Linked DNA regions of Homo sapiens. The protein of the gene in region 3 purifies or fractionates together with the protein of the main gene of each other region. This does not show direct contact. Each region holds a gene or a part of one and is shown on either strand. Other genes may lie near its edges.

What was found.
Region 1: the proteins of SLC22A5 (region 3) and SLC35E1 purify together in Homo sapiens (affinity purification with mass spectrometry; one large-scale study listed by BioGRID and IntAct). This does not show direct contact.
Region 2: the proteins of SLC22A5 (region 3) and VMP1 purify together in Homo sapiens (affinity purification with mass spectrometry; one large-scale study listed by BioGRID and IntAct). This does not show direct contact.
Region 4: the proteins of SLC22A5 (region 3) and TMEM41B purify together in Homo sapiens (affinity purification with mass spectrometry; one large-scale study listed by BioGRID and IntAct). This does not show direct contact.

Annotation. Positions count from the first base shown.
Region 1 is NC_000019.10:16,562,416-16,565,915, reverse strand, and holds part of SLC35E1 (solute carrier family 35 member E1), read left to right. Parts: intron 1-3,500. UniProt on the Homo sapiens protein: Putative transporter.
Region 2 is NC_000017.11:59,808,654-59,812,153, forward strand, and holds part of VMP1 (vacuole membrane protein 1), read left to right. Parts: intron 1-142; coding exon 143-223; intron 224-3,016; coding exon 3,017-3,133; intron 3,134-3,500. UniProt on the Homo sapiens protein: Phospholipid scramblase involved in lipid homeostasis and membrane dynamics processes. Has phospholipid scramblase activity toward cholesterol and phosphatidylserine, as well as phosphatidylethanolamine and phosphatidylcholine.
Region 3 is NC_000005.10:132,383,210-132,386,709, forward strand, and holds part of SLC22A5 (organic cation/carnitine transporter 2), read left to right. Parts: exon of another isoform or gene 1-937; coding exon 938-1,092; coding exon of another isoform or gene 1,093-1,111; intron 1,112-2,118; coding exon 2,119-2,290; intron 2,291-3,500. UniProt on the Homo sapiens protein: Sodium-ion dependent, high affinity carnitine transporter. Involved in the active cellular uptake of carnitine. Transports one sodium ion with one molecule of carnitine.
Region 4 is NC_000011.10:9,311,794-9,315,928, reverse strand, and holds the start of TMEM41B (transmembrane protein 41B), read left to right. Parts: upstream 1-1,335; 5' UTR 1,336-1,487; coding exon 1,488-1,608; intron 1,609-4,135. UniProt on the Homo sapiens protein: Phospholipid scramblase involved in lipid homeostasis and membrane dynamics processes. Has phospholipid scramblase activity toward cholesterol and phosphatidylserine, as well as phosphatidylethanolamine and phosphatidylcholine.

The DNA of each region.
Region 1 (3,500 bases), on a different chromosome or scaffold from region 3:
TCCCAAAGTGCTGGGATTACAGATGTGAGCCACTGTGCCTTGCCAGCCCTGGAACTTTGAAAACTATGCACTGGCCAAAAAAAAAAAAAAAAAAAAAAAAAGCCGGGCGCAGTGGCTCACGCCTGTAATCCCAGCACTCTGGGAGGCCAAGGCGGGCGGATCACGAGGTCAGGAGTTTGAGACCAGCCTGGCCAATATGGTGACACCCTGTTTCTCCCAAAAATACAAAAATTAGCCAGGCATGGTGGCTCGCACCTGTAGTCCCAGCTACTTGGGAGGCTGAGGCAGAAGAATTGCTTGAACCCAGGATGTGGCGGTTGCAGTGAGCCGAGATGGTGCCACTGCACTCCAGCCTGGGTGACAGAGGGAGACTCCGTGTCAAAAAAAAAAGAAAAAAACATGCGCTGCCTGGGTGTGGTGGCTTACGCCTATAATCCCAGCACTTTGGGAGGCCAAGGTGTGTGAATCATTTGAGGTCAGGAGTTCGAGACCAGCCTGACCAATATGGTGAAATCCTGTCTCTACTAAAAATACAAAATTAGCCAGGCGTGGTGGTGCACGCCTGTAATCCCAGCCACTTGGGAGGCTGAGGTGGGAGAATCGCTTGAACCCAGGAGGCAGAGTTTGCAGTGAGCCGAGATCGCACCACTGCACTCCAGCCTGGGCAACAAGTGTGAAGCTCCGTCTCAAAAAAAAAAAAGAAAGAAAGAAAACTGTGCAGCTCAGTTCCTCCCTGGTCTCTGTTTCCATTTACTCCACGTCGAATCTTTTTGCCACCTGCAGGGTCTGCCTTCAGAGAATGTGTTATAAATGAATGCAAGTGCCTGCGGTGAGGAGGAGGCCAGTGCGATTCTTCCAGACTCGAGTTAGAAAGGAAAAGTAAATATTTATTGAGGTCTTAATGTGGTCTAGCTGGATTTGTGACATTTCTTATCTTTAATCCTTGGCTCCACCTGCTGAAGTAGTGGATATTACCTCTATTTTCCCAATCAGTAAACCATGGCTCACTTTTCTAACTTTCGTTTCACATTGATGAGCTGTAATTCTTCTGTGAAGAACTTTCCATCTTCCAGGACTAGTTTGTTACCTTGAAGTATGGTACGAGAAAGGCAGTTTAATGCTTAACTGTTCCTTTTGATGACTAATTTTCAGGATAGAGAGTTGGAGCTTACTCCAAATGTTGACCAGAGTTGAGGGTTTGTTTGGGGGTAGGGAAGGGGTTCTCTTTTTTTCTCCAGCATCATTGTGAACTTTTATGTGTTTGTCAGTTGCATGAATTATTCGTTTTCCTAGTCAAATTGTCCTGTCTTGGCCAGGCGCAGTGGCTCCAGCCTGTAATCCCAGCACTTTGGGAGGCCGAGGTGGGCAGATCACTTGAGGTCAGGAGTTCAAGACCAGCCTGGCCAACGTGGTGAAACCCCATCTCTACAGAAAATACAAAAATTTGCCAGGCATGGTGGTGCACGCCTGTAATCCCAGCTACTCAGGAGGCTGAGGCAGGAGAATTGCTTGAACCTGGAAGGCGGAGGTTGCGGTGAGCTGAGATCGTACCACTGCACTCCAGCCTGGGCGACAGAGCGAGACTCCATCTTAAAAAAAAAGAAGAAAAAAAAATTGTCCTGTCTTAGCCATTGGAGCCCTTCTGATTGGCTCCTTGCCCTTCTAGCACTGTGGGTCAGCGTTTCTCCCAGCGGGATGCCCGCCTTCACCTTGTGTACTTCCCATCCCAGAGCTGCAGTCAGCCCCTCCTTCAGGACTCCAGGTGCCGTTAGTGGGGAGCGGTATTTAGAGACACAATCCAGGTGCCATGGGTGCTTTTTGCTGCTGGGTGGTCATTGTTGTTAGGCCTTTACTGTGAAAAATTAGGAAGTACACACTTGGGGCAGCAGCAAAGAGTTCCTAGCAATTAGCGTCACTTTCAGTTGAACAGTCCAGATCTTTGCTGTTTTGAATTTCATATTTAGATCTCGTCGCTGGTATGCTTGGTTCCGCTCCTCGTTTCTTAGTTGCTTATTCTACCCGTTATTCACTGATGTTATTCTACTGTACACTCACTCATATAATTGCTTCAGAATGAGCATTCTCACAGCACAATTGCAACTGGAGTGCTGAGAAAAGGTTAGTATTTCTTTGCAGGCTGGGTGTGGTGGCTCACACCTGGAATCCCAGCACTTTAGGAGACCGAGGTAGGTGGATCCCTTGAGGCCAGGAGTTCGAAACCAGCCTGGCCAACGTGGGGAAACCCCATCTCTAGAAAAAATATAAAAATTATCTGGTGTGGTGGCGTACGCCTATAATCCTAGCTACTAGGTAGGTGGAGGTTGCAGTGAGCTGAGATCACGACACTGCACTCCAACCTGGGTGACAAAGTGAGACTGTCTCATAAAAATAAAAAAAAAGAAGAAGTCTGGTCATGATTCCTGTACTCTCCCTGTCCCCTCCCTGACCATGGATAACATTTCTTAGGCTCCTAGTTCACCTGTTCCATATTTTTGCAAATATAAGCAAATTTGCATGTATAATCACCCTCTGTCCTTATTACACACAGAGTAGCTTTTTATTTTATTATTTTATTTTATTTTATTTTATTTTTTGAGACGGAGTTTTTCTGTCTCCTAGGCTAGAATGCAATGGCATGTTCTCGGCTCACTGCAGCCTCCGCCTCCCGGATTCAAGCAGTTCTCCTGCCTCAGCCTCCCGAGTAGCTGGGACTACAGACACCCACCACCGCGCCCAGCTAATTTTTTGTGTGTTTTTACTAGAGGTGGGGTTTCTCCATTTTGGCCAGGCTAGTCTCAAACTCCTGACATTAGGTGATCCACCCACTTCGGCCTCCCAAAGTGCTGGAATTATAGGCGTAAGCGACCACGCCCAGCCCAAAAAGTAGCTTTTTAAATTTACAGGTCAGGCACAGTGCCTCACACATGTAATCCCAGTATTTTGGAAGGCAGAGGCAGGCAGACTGCTTTAGCCTCAGGAGTTTGAGACCAGCCTGGTCAACATGGTGAAACCCCGTCTCTACGTAAAACAAAACCAAAAATTAACCCGGCATGGTGGCACATGCCTGTAGTCCGAGCTACTTGGGAGCCTGAGGTGGGAAGATCACTTGAGCCCGGGAAGGTCAAAGCTGCAGTGAGCCATGTTTGAGCCACTGCACCCCAGCCAGCATGACAGAGCAAGACCCTATCTCAAAAATAAATATAAACATACAGTCATCCTTCCATATCTGTGGGTTCCACACTAGTGGATTCAGCCAACTGCGAATTGAAAATATATGGTAGAAAAACAAAATACTATAATAAAGAATAAGACATTTTAAAATAATACAGTATAACAATTATTTGTATAGCAGTTTTATTGTATTAGGGATTACAAGTAATCTAGCGATGATTTCAAGTATATGGGAGGATGTGCATGGATTACATGCAAATACTAAACCATTTTATAAAAGGGACTTGAATATCTGTAGATTTTGGCATCCGCAGGGGTCCCTAGAACCA
Region 2 (3,500 bases), on a different chromosome or scaffold from region 3:
AACAACCTACTGTAATTTTTTTCATCATTCATCTTATTAATCAGTGTCATCAGATTGGGAGATCTTTAATAAACTCTAGAAAGAACCATCTTTCCTTCTTTTCCTACTTCTCATTAATGTTTCTAAATTTGCCTTTTTACAGGACTTTGCCTCCCGGGCCAAACTGGCAGTTCAAAAACTAGTACAGAAAGTTGGATTTTTTGGAATTTTGGCCTGTGCTTCAGTAAGTGAATTGTATTAAAACAGAACTTTTACTAAGTGGTAGTGTTATATTTTGATCCATATATACTCCTGAATTAACAAAAGTGCTATCACTTTTATTGGGTATGTAATTTTGTGAATCATTCACCTTTTTTTTTTTTTAAGACGGAGTCTCCCTCTTGTCACCCAGGCTGGAGTGCAGTGGCATGATCTCGGCTCACTGCAACCTCCATCTCCTGGGCTCAAGCAATTCTCCTGTCTCAGCCTCCCTAGTAGCTGGGACTACAGGCATGCACCCCCACGCCTGGCTAATTTTTATATTTTTAGTAGAGGCAGGATCTCATGTTGCCCAGGCTAGTCTCAAACTCCTGGGCCCAAGTGATCCACCTGCCTCGGCCTCCCAAAGTGCTGGGATTACAGGCATGAGCCACTACACCTGGCCCATTCAACTTTTTTTTTTTTTTTTTTTTTTTTTTTTGAGACAAGAGTTTCACTTTTGTGGCCCAGGCTGGAGTGCAATGGCACAATCTCGGCTCACTGCAACCTCCACCTCCCGGGTTCAAACGATTCTCCTGCCTCAGCCTCCCAAAGTAGCTGGGATTTCAGGCGACTGCCACCACACCCAGCTAATTTTTTTTTTTTTTTTTTTTTTTTTTTTTTTTTTTTTTTTGAGACGGAGTCTCGCTCTGTCGCCCAGGCGGTAGTGCAGTGGCGGGATCTCGGCTCACTGCAAGCTCCGCCTCCCGGGTTCACGCCATTCTCCTGCCTCAGCCTCCCAAGTAGCTGGGACTACAGGCGCCCGCCACTACGCCCGGCTAATTTTTTGTATTTTTAGTAGAGACGGGGTTTCACCGTTTTAGCCGGGATGGTCTCGATCTCCTGACCTCGTGATCCGCCCGCCTCGGCCTCCCAAAGTACTGGGATTACAGGTGTGAGCTACTGCACCCAGCCCAATTCAACTTATTAAATGAGCTGTTTTCTGTTGAATAGGTTCACATCTTGTTTATTGGCTTTTAAGTATTTCATCATGTAGTGATGACTTCAGACCTAAATGGCTTAAATCAGTAAGAATAAAAGAGACAAAATCCATTCTTCCAATGAAGAATATACTACATTTAACCAAATTAAACTACATTTAACCAAATAAGGATGACTTCATTCTTTCCTCAAATTTATAGATAAGAAGTCTTTTTCCAAAGTTTCAAGTATTAGTTACAAGGAAGAATTTATATAAAACCTGTTTAAAGCGATGTTAGCTCAGGGCTACTCTGATTTACGTATCTTAAATCCTTTTTTTGTGTTTGTTTTTCTTTTTTTGAGACAGAGTCTCCCTCTGTCACCCAGGCTGGAGTGCAGTGGCGAGATCTTGGCTCACGGCAACCTCCACCTCCCAGGTTCAAGCGATTCTCCTGCCTCAGGCTACCCAGTAGCTGGGATTACAATCATGCACCACTACACCCAGCTAATTTTTGTATTTTTAGTAGAGACAAGGTTTCACCATGTTGGCCAGGCTGGTCTCGAACTCCTGACCTCAAGTGATCTACCCACCTCGGCCTCCCAAAGTGCTGGGATTATAGGCATAAGACACTGCGCCCAGCCTACATATCTTAAATACTTTAAATTCATTTTCATTTCAACATGAGTTGGAACCTTATGATAAAGGAAAAAAAAGTTATAACTCATAGAATTATGAGAGTCACATGAGCAAATATAACAAATAGCAGGTGTGATGCTGTGTAAATGATATTATTATATGGTTGTAAGAGATGAAATAATCCTAAAGCATTTGAATTTGGATGAGAAAAACAAAAATGAGTCATTGAATCCAAGTGTTACTAACAAAGGAATACTTGAATTCTAATTTAGTCATGTCTTTTTTAAAGATCATATGTGACAAGTATTTTTTAAATAACTAGGCTTTTCTTTCAAAGTTCAAAAATGAAATTATATAAATTAATTGGCTTATTAATGGTTCAGCCAACAGCCACAAGGTCAGAGTACTTTCATAGGAGAAGAAGGGATGAAGTGCTCAAAAACAGCTTGTGGCTTCTTTGCATTTTTACATGAAATGTCTTTTAGCATTCTTAAAATGTGGGAATGTTTGGGAAAGGTATTTGTTGTGAATTACTTCTTTGTCTGGGACTGAGTATTCAAAACATCTGAATCTGTGTGATCTCATATTTCCACACTTGATCTTCTTTATAAATTGTGTCACATAGCCCTCAGACTTGGTCTCTCGTAAAATAAAATACAAATTATTAATATTTTATGTTGAGAATAACAGCACATCCACCCATAAATGTATTTGAGAATTTATTAAAATATTTGCTAATGATATGAGTGCTTTCCAGATAATATTCACATTTCAAGCTAAAGATTTTAGAACCCTAACTGCTGAAACAATCTTAAGGCTCTTTCTTCACTCATACCTCACCTTAGAAAACAGCCACCAAATATCCAGGAATCAACTGAACGGGATTAAATTCCTGCAGGTCCACTTACTTTATCCAGTTCTCATGTGATGGGCACACACACAAACACACACACAGTGCCTTAGCCATGAGTAATATAAGCAAAAGGACACCTTGGTTTGCTGTGAGCAGATTGAACACCTAAGGTGAATATGAGACCCAGCTTCTAGACACATTAGGATGTTTGCCTAACCTCCTTTTGAACAATCCAGTAGTGATCAAGGAACCCATATATTGCTTTGCAGTGTAAGCAGGCTGAAAGCAGAATACCACATATCAATGGGTGATAAAATTAAATTGTTCTTTGGATTATAATATGGAAGTCCTTCTTTTTCTCTCTATAGATTCCAAATCCTTTATTTGATCTGGCTGGAATAACGTGTGGACACTTTCTGGTACCTTTTTGGACCTTCTTTGGTGCAACCCTAATTGGAAAAGCAATAATAAAAATGCATATCCAGGTAATTATACCCCCTGATTCACTGCCTAATGATGATGAACCCATTACAAGACAATGAAACATGCTCATTCCTAAGTGAATTATTTAGTTATTCTTTCTGCTTTTTTGGTTGGTAGCTTACTTAGGTAATACCACATAGAATGTCATTTGGAATTAGTGATCTCCTTGTTTTCTTTCTTTTCTTCTTTCTTCCTCCCTCCTTCCCTTTCTTCCTTCTTTCCTTCCTTTCTCTCTTTCTTTCTTTATTTTTTGTCCTGTTTAACTATTTATCCAGGACTTTCACCAAACAAAAATAGTGTTTGTGTGCAGAAAGATGCACATCATTTTTATATACACAGCCCAAAAAATGTAGTTTTTTGTTTGTTTTG
Region 3 (3,500 bases):
GTAATAATCACTTCCTTGTGAGTTTTTTTAGTTTTATTATCGAAATATGCATCCTTGACACAAATTTAGTGTTGCCCACTTAATATATTTGATGTCTTTTAGTCTACTTAATCTATGGATTCTCCTTCTATCGCCTTCTATGCCTTACTGATTATCTATGAAGAACCTGAGCTATTCCACCTATAGAATTTCCCAGTCTGGATTTGTTGATTGCACACTGATGATGCAGTTCAGCACATTCCTCTATGCTCTGCATTTCCTCAAAATTGGCAGTTGGATCCAGAGACTTGAGATTCAGGTTCTGATTCAGGTTCAGTCCTTTTGGCCAGACCATAGGAAGCATGCAATTCCTGACTGTCTCTTTATGATGTTAACAGTAATTAGTATATAATGCATAGATCTATTAATCCATTGGGGGCTATAAATGGTATTATTCTAATTTTATTACCTTTTCATTTAAAAGTTAGAATACTTTTGTACATGATACTACCTCTTATCTATTATTGGTTGCTGTTCACATAGTTTACAAAGGAAAATCAGGACAAATGTTTCTTTCTCTTTATTTGCCAGTTTTCATTTATAATGAATTGTTTCTCTGTTATTCTCCAAATTTGGCAGATTCTTTTTTAAAAAAAATATCATTATGAATGTATGGATTAAATAATTGATGTATTTCAGTCTCTTGCAATCATTATCATAATTGTAGCATTGCTTTTTAGGCAACCCTGGTACCCAGGCTGTACATTTGTCATGGGGAGTGGGGAGGGGGAGAAATAGCATGGGCACTGTGAGACCGAGACTGTCCCTGGCAGCCAGTATTCTGGCAACACTGTTCACACCCACTTACTGGATGGATCTTGAGAAAGCCCCACTTGGTGGAGCCCATTCCTGCTGCCCTTTTCCAGCTGGTTATCTGTCACTCTCCTTTTCTTCCCAGGTTTGGCCGGAAGAATGTGCTGTTCGTGACCATGGGCATGCAGACAGGCTTCAGCTTCCTGCAGATCTTCTCGAAGAATTTTGAGATGTTTGTCGTGCTGTTTGTCCTTGTAGGCATGGGCCAGATCTCCAACTATGTGGCAGCATTTGTCCTGGGTATGGCCATCAGGTTGGAGTTGAGTACTTGATCCTGTATTTCACCATCATCCCATCACCTACCTTTCTGGAGACAACTGTGATGTCCCTCAAGGGGGACAGGGTTTCTAACAAAACTAGCCAGAGCTTCCTGGTGAACCTTACTTACAGGCAGGGAAACTGAGCCAGACATGAGACCAGCCTGGGGTCCCCAGCAGCACAATGGCCTGACTTCTGATTTCCAGTTCTTTTCTGGCCTCTGGGCTGTGGCTCCTTGGTCTTAGTACTTGATGGTCAATTTACTAGGACTCACCAGAGATCCTCCATTTACAAAAAGGGCCTGCCACTGCACAGGGCTGAGCCAGCCCCAGAAAGAGGGCGGCATGGTTGGAGGAGGAGGGGCTGTGACTGGCAAGCTTGCTAAGGTAGAGAACCCCTTGTCTGCAGAGCACTGTGGCTGGTGATATCTACGGACAAGAATAAATTGATAGGAAGGGGCTTTCGTCACCTTCAGGGTTTTAATTCAGAGTGCACACTGCAGGGCTTTGTCTCAAATGTGCCAGCCTGTTGTCACTGAGAAGCTGCCAGGCCGGCCTGTGTTTGGAGGAACCTGACTCTAGCTGATAAGGCCTTTGAGTTCCTTGGGTTGTATTGTTGAAAGGGTTGTTTTTTCTTTTTATATTTAATATTCTTTCCTTGAGGCTTAAGTCAGCATGTGCTGACTTAGTAATGACTTCACTTTTAATAAATTCTTCCTCATGTGAGGATTAAAGGGGGCCTACCATGGCATCTTTAGCACATGGCTTCAGAACATGGCGAAATTTTCAAGAGAGAACTGTTGCTTGGGGGCCTGAGAGGCCACAGGGATGTACCCCCAGGAGACAGTCAGACAGGAGGGGTTCAGAACGCCATCCGCTCCCTAGCGCCATGAACTTAGAGAGAGTTCTCGCTGTTTTCTTGTCTGTGTATTCACAAAGATACCATAAAAAATTAATAAGGAAGGAACCCAAATTAAACTGCTAACTCGACCTCCCTTGTTTTGAACAGGGACAGAAATTCTTGGCAAGTCAGTTCGTATAATATTCTCTACGTTAGGAGTGTGCATATTTTATGCATTTGGCTACATGGTGCTGCCACTGTTTGCTTACTTCATCCGAGACTGGCGGATGCTGCTGGTGGCGCTGACGATGCCGGGGGTGCTATGCGTGGCACTCTGGTGGTGAGTGTGACCTTGTGCCCCATGTGCCCACTGGCAGGATGATTTCTGTCTGGCCTTCACTAGAGGGCAGCAACAACCCATGAATCCCTATTTTGTCTCCCAGAGACAGGAAGCATAGATTATAAATTATTTCAGAATGTTTTCTCCACACTCAAAAGAGCCAAAACAAAACAGAATCCCATGACAGCAACAGACTTGCTCTCAGCCCTGTGCTGGGTTGCCCCAAGTGTGGGGAAAAATAGCAGTAGCTGTGAGAAGATGGGGTCCAGCATGCCCTGTAGGAAGTTCCCAAGCCTCAGGGCAGGACAGTGTAGGCCCTAGTTCTGGCTGTGTGCTGCTGAAGCCTCATGCCACAGGCACTGGCACCAAAAGCAAGAGTCCTCAGGGTAGCCACATGGAGGAAGCCAGGCTCCTTCTGCACCACCAAGGTAGAGGAGTTGAACAGGCAGAGAAGAGGCCATTCCAGACCAAGAGGGGAACACTGCAGAGGTGCTAAGGTGGGAATCACCCCTTGCAGGTGGAGAAGGTGAGATCACCAGCCCAAGTGGAGCAGAGAGCATTTCAGGGCATAGTGGGAGAGTAAGCCGCACATCATGGGGCCCAGTCATGACCGAGGGTGGGGGGCGGCTACCTGGTCCCAGCAAGGTGGAAAATAATATCCATAGAGCACTCAAGTGCCTTGATAAACATGCTAATTTTTTTCCTTTTTTTCTTTTCTTTTTCTTTTCTTTTTTTTTCTTTTTTTTTTCTCAGACAAAGTCTCTGTTGCCCAGGCTGTAGTGCAGTGGCGTGATTTCCACTTACTGCAACCTCCGCCTCCCCAGTTCAAGCGATTCTCATGTCTCAGCCTCCCGAGTAGCTGGGACTACAGGTGCCTGCCACCACACTTGGCTAATTTTTTTTGTATTTCTTTGGAGAGACGGGTTTCACTGCGTTGGCCAGGCTGGTCTGGAACTCCTAGCCTCAAATGATCCACCGGCCTTGGCCTCCTAAAGTGCTGGGATTATAGGAGTGAACCACTGCACCTGGCCAAACATGCTATTTTAGGTAGAGTATCTGACTAATCTGTTGGATAAATCAGGGGTAGGGTGAGGAGAGAAGAGAAGCTAAAAGGCCAGTGCAGAAGCTTCTGTTGGTGCCGGGGACAGGGAGGAGAGTGTAGCAGGGCCTGGGCTGACATAGACATGCACAGAAGCCAGGCTTCCGGAGC
Region 4 (4,135 bases), on a different chromosome or scaffold from region 3:
TGCCTTAAAGCTTATATTCTAAAGGTGGAGGCAGACAATAAACAAGTAAACAAATAGTTCACAGAATTAATTGCTTTTAATGACTATGAAGGAAATAAAATGGGAGCCAGAAGTAGGCAAAGGATGTGTACATAAAACAGTTCAATTGAATGGGTTTCCCATAATTTACTTAACCATTTTTATTTAGTGTTGGATTTTTATATTGCTTTTAGTTTTTCACTGTTATACTAATACAGAGGAATTATTTATGTTTATTTTCATGGAATAATTTCCTACAAATGTAATTACTGAATAGAAACAATCAGGATTTTTTTTTTTTTTTTTTGGGACGGAGTCTTGCTTTGTGGTCTATGCTGGAGTGCAGCGGTGCAATTTCTCACCGCAACCTCAGCCTCCGGGGTTCAAGCGATTCTCCTGACTCACACTCTCGAGTAGCTGGGATTACAAGCCATCATGTCCAGCTCATTTTTGTATTTTTAGCAGAGACGGGGTCTCATCTCACCATTTTGGCCAGTCTGGCCTCACACTCCTGGTCTCAAATGATCCGCCCGCCTTGGCCTCCCAAAGTGTTGGGATTACAGGCTTGAGCCACCGCGACCGGCCTCTAAGTTGCTTTCAAGAGGTAACCACGGTGAGTAAGCTGAATGTGCTCTGAGGGGTAGAAGCAGAAAAAGTTACCTGTGGAAAAGGCATGTTTCCGCTTAGCTTAGGGATAAGCTAAATGTAGAGCTGACTTGGGTTTAGTAGTAAGGGGCAGCAGCTAATGCAAAACCGTTAGCTTTGGGAACAGGACAACCTGGATTCTAAGCCCATTTTTGCCATCCTGTGATCTTCACAGGTTGTACGTAGCCCTCTCTGAGCCTTAGTTTCCTGAAATTCAGGTAGGTTTTGCTCAACCTTTGTATTTCCCACCATCTTTTAGATCAAGCACTCTCTGGCGCCTCCAAATTGAAGACAGCAGCTGCGGAATTGATGTAATGGGCTGAATCAGCCTCAGCCGCGAAATGCCGACTAATCACAGGCACCTCCGGCGGCCTGGACAAAAGGTTTGAAGTCCCTGGGACCGCACTTCCGGGTAATTAAGGCTACGCTTTAGACGCCAGGGCCAGCGAGTCGCAGCCGGGTGACTCGAGTGCCGCGACTGCGCATGCTCTCGCCCCAGCGCCCGGCGGCCACCTCTTTCCCGCGGGCGGGCCGGGGCGGGGCACTGAAGGGGGCGGTCCAGGACCCTGACTTGTCTCGCGGTTACTGGGCCGGCGCGAGCACGCGAGGCTCGGGGGCGGCACGGGGCGGGGTTTAGCCTGTGGTGGGCGCTGCGGGTGTTTGCAGGAGGTTGCAGTACTCGCTGGGCTGAGGTCGTCTCGGGTGAGGAGGTCGCGCCGGAAGTGGCTCTAGCCGTGGCGCTTCGGCGTAGTAAGGAGCCTGCAACAGAGTTTTGTTGTTTAGGGGGCGCGGCACCGCACCGCTCCCTTCACCTTGCAGCAGCCATGGCGAAAGGCAGAGTCGCCGAACGATCGCAGTTGGGCGCTCACCACACGACCCCCGTGGGGGACGGGGCAGCGGGGACGCGGGGTCTCGCGGCGCCTGGCAGCAGAGACCACCAGAAGGGTGAGTGGGCCCGGGGAGCAGAGCTGGGGGTGGCCCGAGGCTTCTGTGTGTCGGGTGGGGAAAAGGACCCCCGCTATTCTCGGAGAGTCGCGGGGAAAGAGGGGGGCCTGCTGGCGCCGCGGCGGGAGCAGAGACCGTGGGGGAGTTGGGCTTGGGCGCTCGCGCAGCACAAGGCCGGACGCCGAGTAGGTGCGTTGTAAATGCTGTTTGAGTAGAATTCATTTAAAAGAAGGGATGACACTGGCTTGTTGACGCTCAGGTAGATTGTAAGGTTGATGATAACGACGCTAGGCAGAGCTGGAAGGAGCTGTACTGTGGCATTCGCTGCGTTGTTTTTACAGATGAAGAAACTGAGGCCCAGTGTGGGTATATGACTTATAAAGTCATAAAGCCAGATCAGTGAAGTAGTAGTTAGGAGCGAGGACTTAATACTTCCAGGTGGCAGTACACCTGGGCTTGAGTCCCTGCCCTACTGTTTACTTGGAACCTTGGACTTGGTAACTTTCAAAAAAAGCTCAGTGTCTGAACTGTGAAATGGGGATAATAATAATATCTACTTAATAGGTGGTGCGTGGGTTAAACGAAATAATTCACGTAAAAGATTTAGAGCAATGCTTGGATATGAAGTGGGGGCTAAATAAATATTAGCAATTACTTAGTTACAGCTAAGGTCACTCATTCTAAAGTTTATTTCCCCACTACATCATCCTGACATTTCTCACGGCTTTATTTTTGGTTTTTGTTTTCTCTTTATTCCTACTGCCTCTATAATTGCAGAATCTCACGGCTTTAAATATTGTTTTAAGGAAAAAACTGTACGTAGAAACTAAATACTTTGATTCCGTGTTGGCCTGGAATCGTTCTTTAAATGATTTTAAAGCTCATAAACTTAAAGTGATCCTAACAAGTTTGTCTGTAGCTCACATAGGTGTGTTCCACCACCAGTGATGGCTAGGAGAACTTCTAAGAGTATGTAGTAGAAAATGTTAATGTATTTTCAAATAATTTAAAATGTCTCCAACAGTCTAATTTGGCTCTGTCAGCCTTATGTTTTTGGGTATTTTTCCAGCTTATATACACTGGATCCAGGTGACTTCATATAATTTCAAAAACTGAGAAATGAATCGTTGTTAATGTATAAATCAGCTCTGAATAAAAGAAAGATTGTTTTGAAGACTCTACTACTGAGGGTGACAATATTCCAAGGTCTGGGTTTCCTGAAAAAGTGTTCCAGATAGGGCATCCCTAAAAATTGACATCTCATTTGAGGTAGCAGCCAGTTGTATTCATGATTTTTACCTAAAGCTATTCAAAAAATAAAACCTTGAAACTTCCAAAGTGCTCTTACTTTTTAATCTTATTTTATCATTACAACAAAACATTCAACACAATTATTCTTTTTTTTTTTTTTTTTTTTGAGACGGAGTCTCGGTCTGTCACCCAGGCTGGAGTGCAGTGGCGCAATCTTGGCTCACTGCAAGCTCCGCCTCCTGGGTTCACGCCATTCTCCTGCCTCAGCCTCCCGAGTAGCTGGGACTACAGGCGCCCACCACCACGCCGGGCTAATTTTTGTATTTTTAGTAGAGATGGGGTTTCACCTTGTTAGCCAGGATGGTCTCGATCTCCTGACCTGTTGATCCGCCCGCCTCGGCCTCCCAAAGTGCTGGGATTACAGGCGTGAGCCACCACGCCTGGCCTACAATTATTCTTATGATGCTGTCCCATGACATCTATAGATCACAAATCTATAGGAAGACAGGGAAGAGATGTGAAGGCGTGCCTTCACTTCATGATGAAGTAAGGCCTGTTTTTAGTGACTTGAGACAAGGCCTCGCTGTGTCACCTATGCTGGAGTGCAGTGGCATGATCATAGCTTGCTGCAGCCTCAGCTACCTGGGCTCATGCGATCTTCCCACCTCAGCCCCCTCAAATAGCTGACTACAGGTGTGTGCCACCATGCTCAGCTAATTATTTGTTTTTTGTAGAGAAGGGGCCAGGGTGTCTTGAAGTCCTGGGCTCAAGCGTCTTCCTGCCTTGGCCTCCCCAAATGCTGGAATTACAGGCATGAGCCATTGTGCTTTGCCAGATAAGTAAGGTTTGGATAAGTAAAGAGAAGGGAAGGGTATTCCAGGCTAGGAGAAAGAGAGTAGTAGGGTTGAAGGTTAGTGTGAAACTTTTATGTGTGTGGGTAGGGAGATTAATTTGTCAGGAGCAGAGGGTTTCTGTTGGGTGGTAGTAGGCGATGAGGTTGGCCTGTTCAGGATGTGTCAGAATGTTCCTGTAAATTCCATGATACTTGGAAATGAATTTGTATTCTATTAAGTGACACATATATAACTTTGACAAATAAGTAGTTATCATCATATGTATGTTTGAACTGTTTTACATGCTATCTGCAATGTTTGGTACATTTAGTGGATTCCTTGCCATTACTCTGGCCTCTAGTCTCAGAGCTAAGCCTAGTAGACTGTGGACCACTTTGACTACTTGAGTAAGGCAGAGGTAACACGGAAAGTCTAATTTTTGC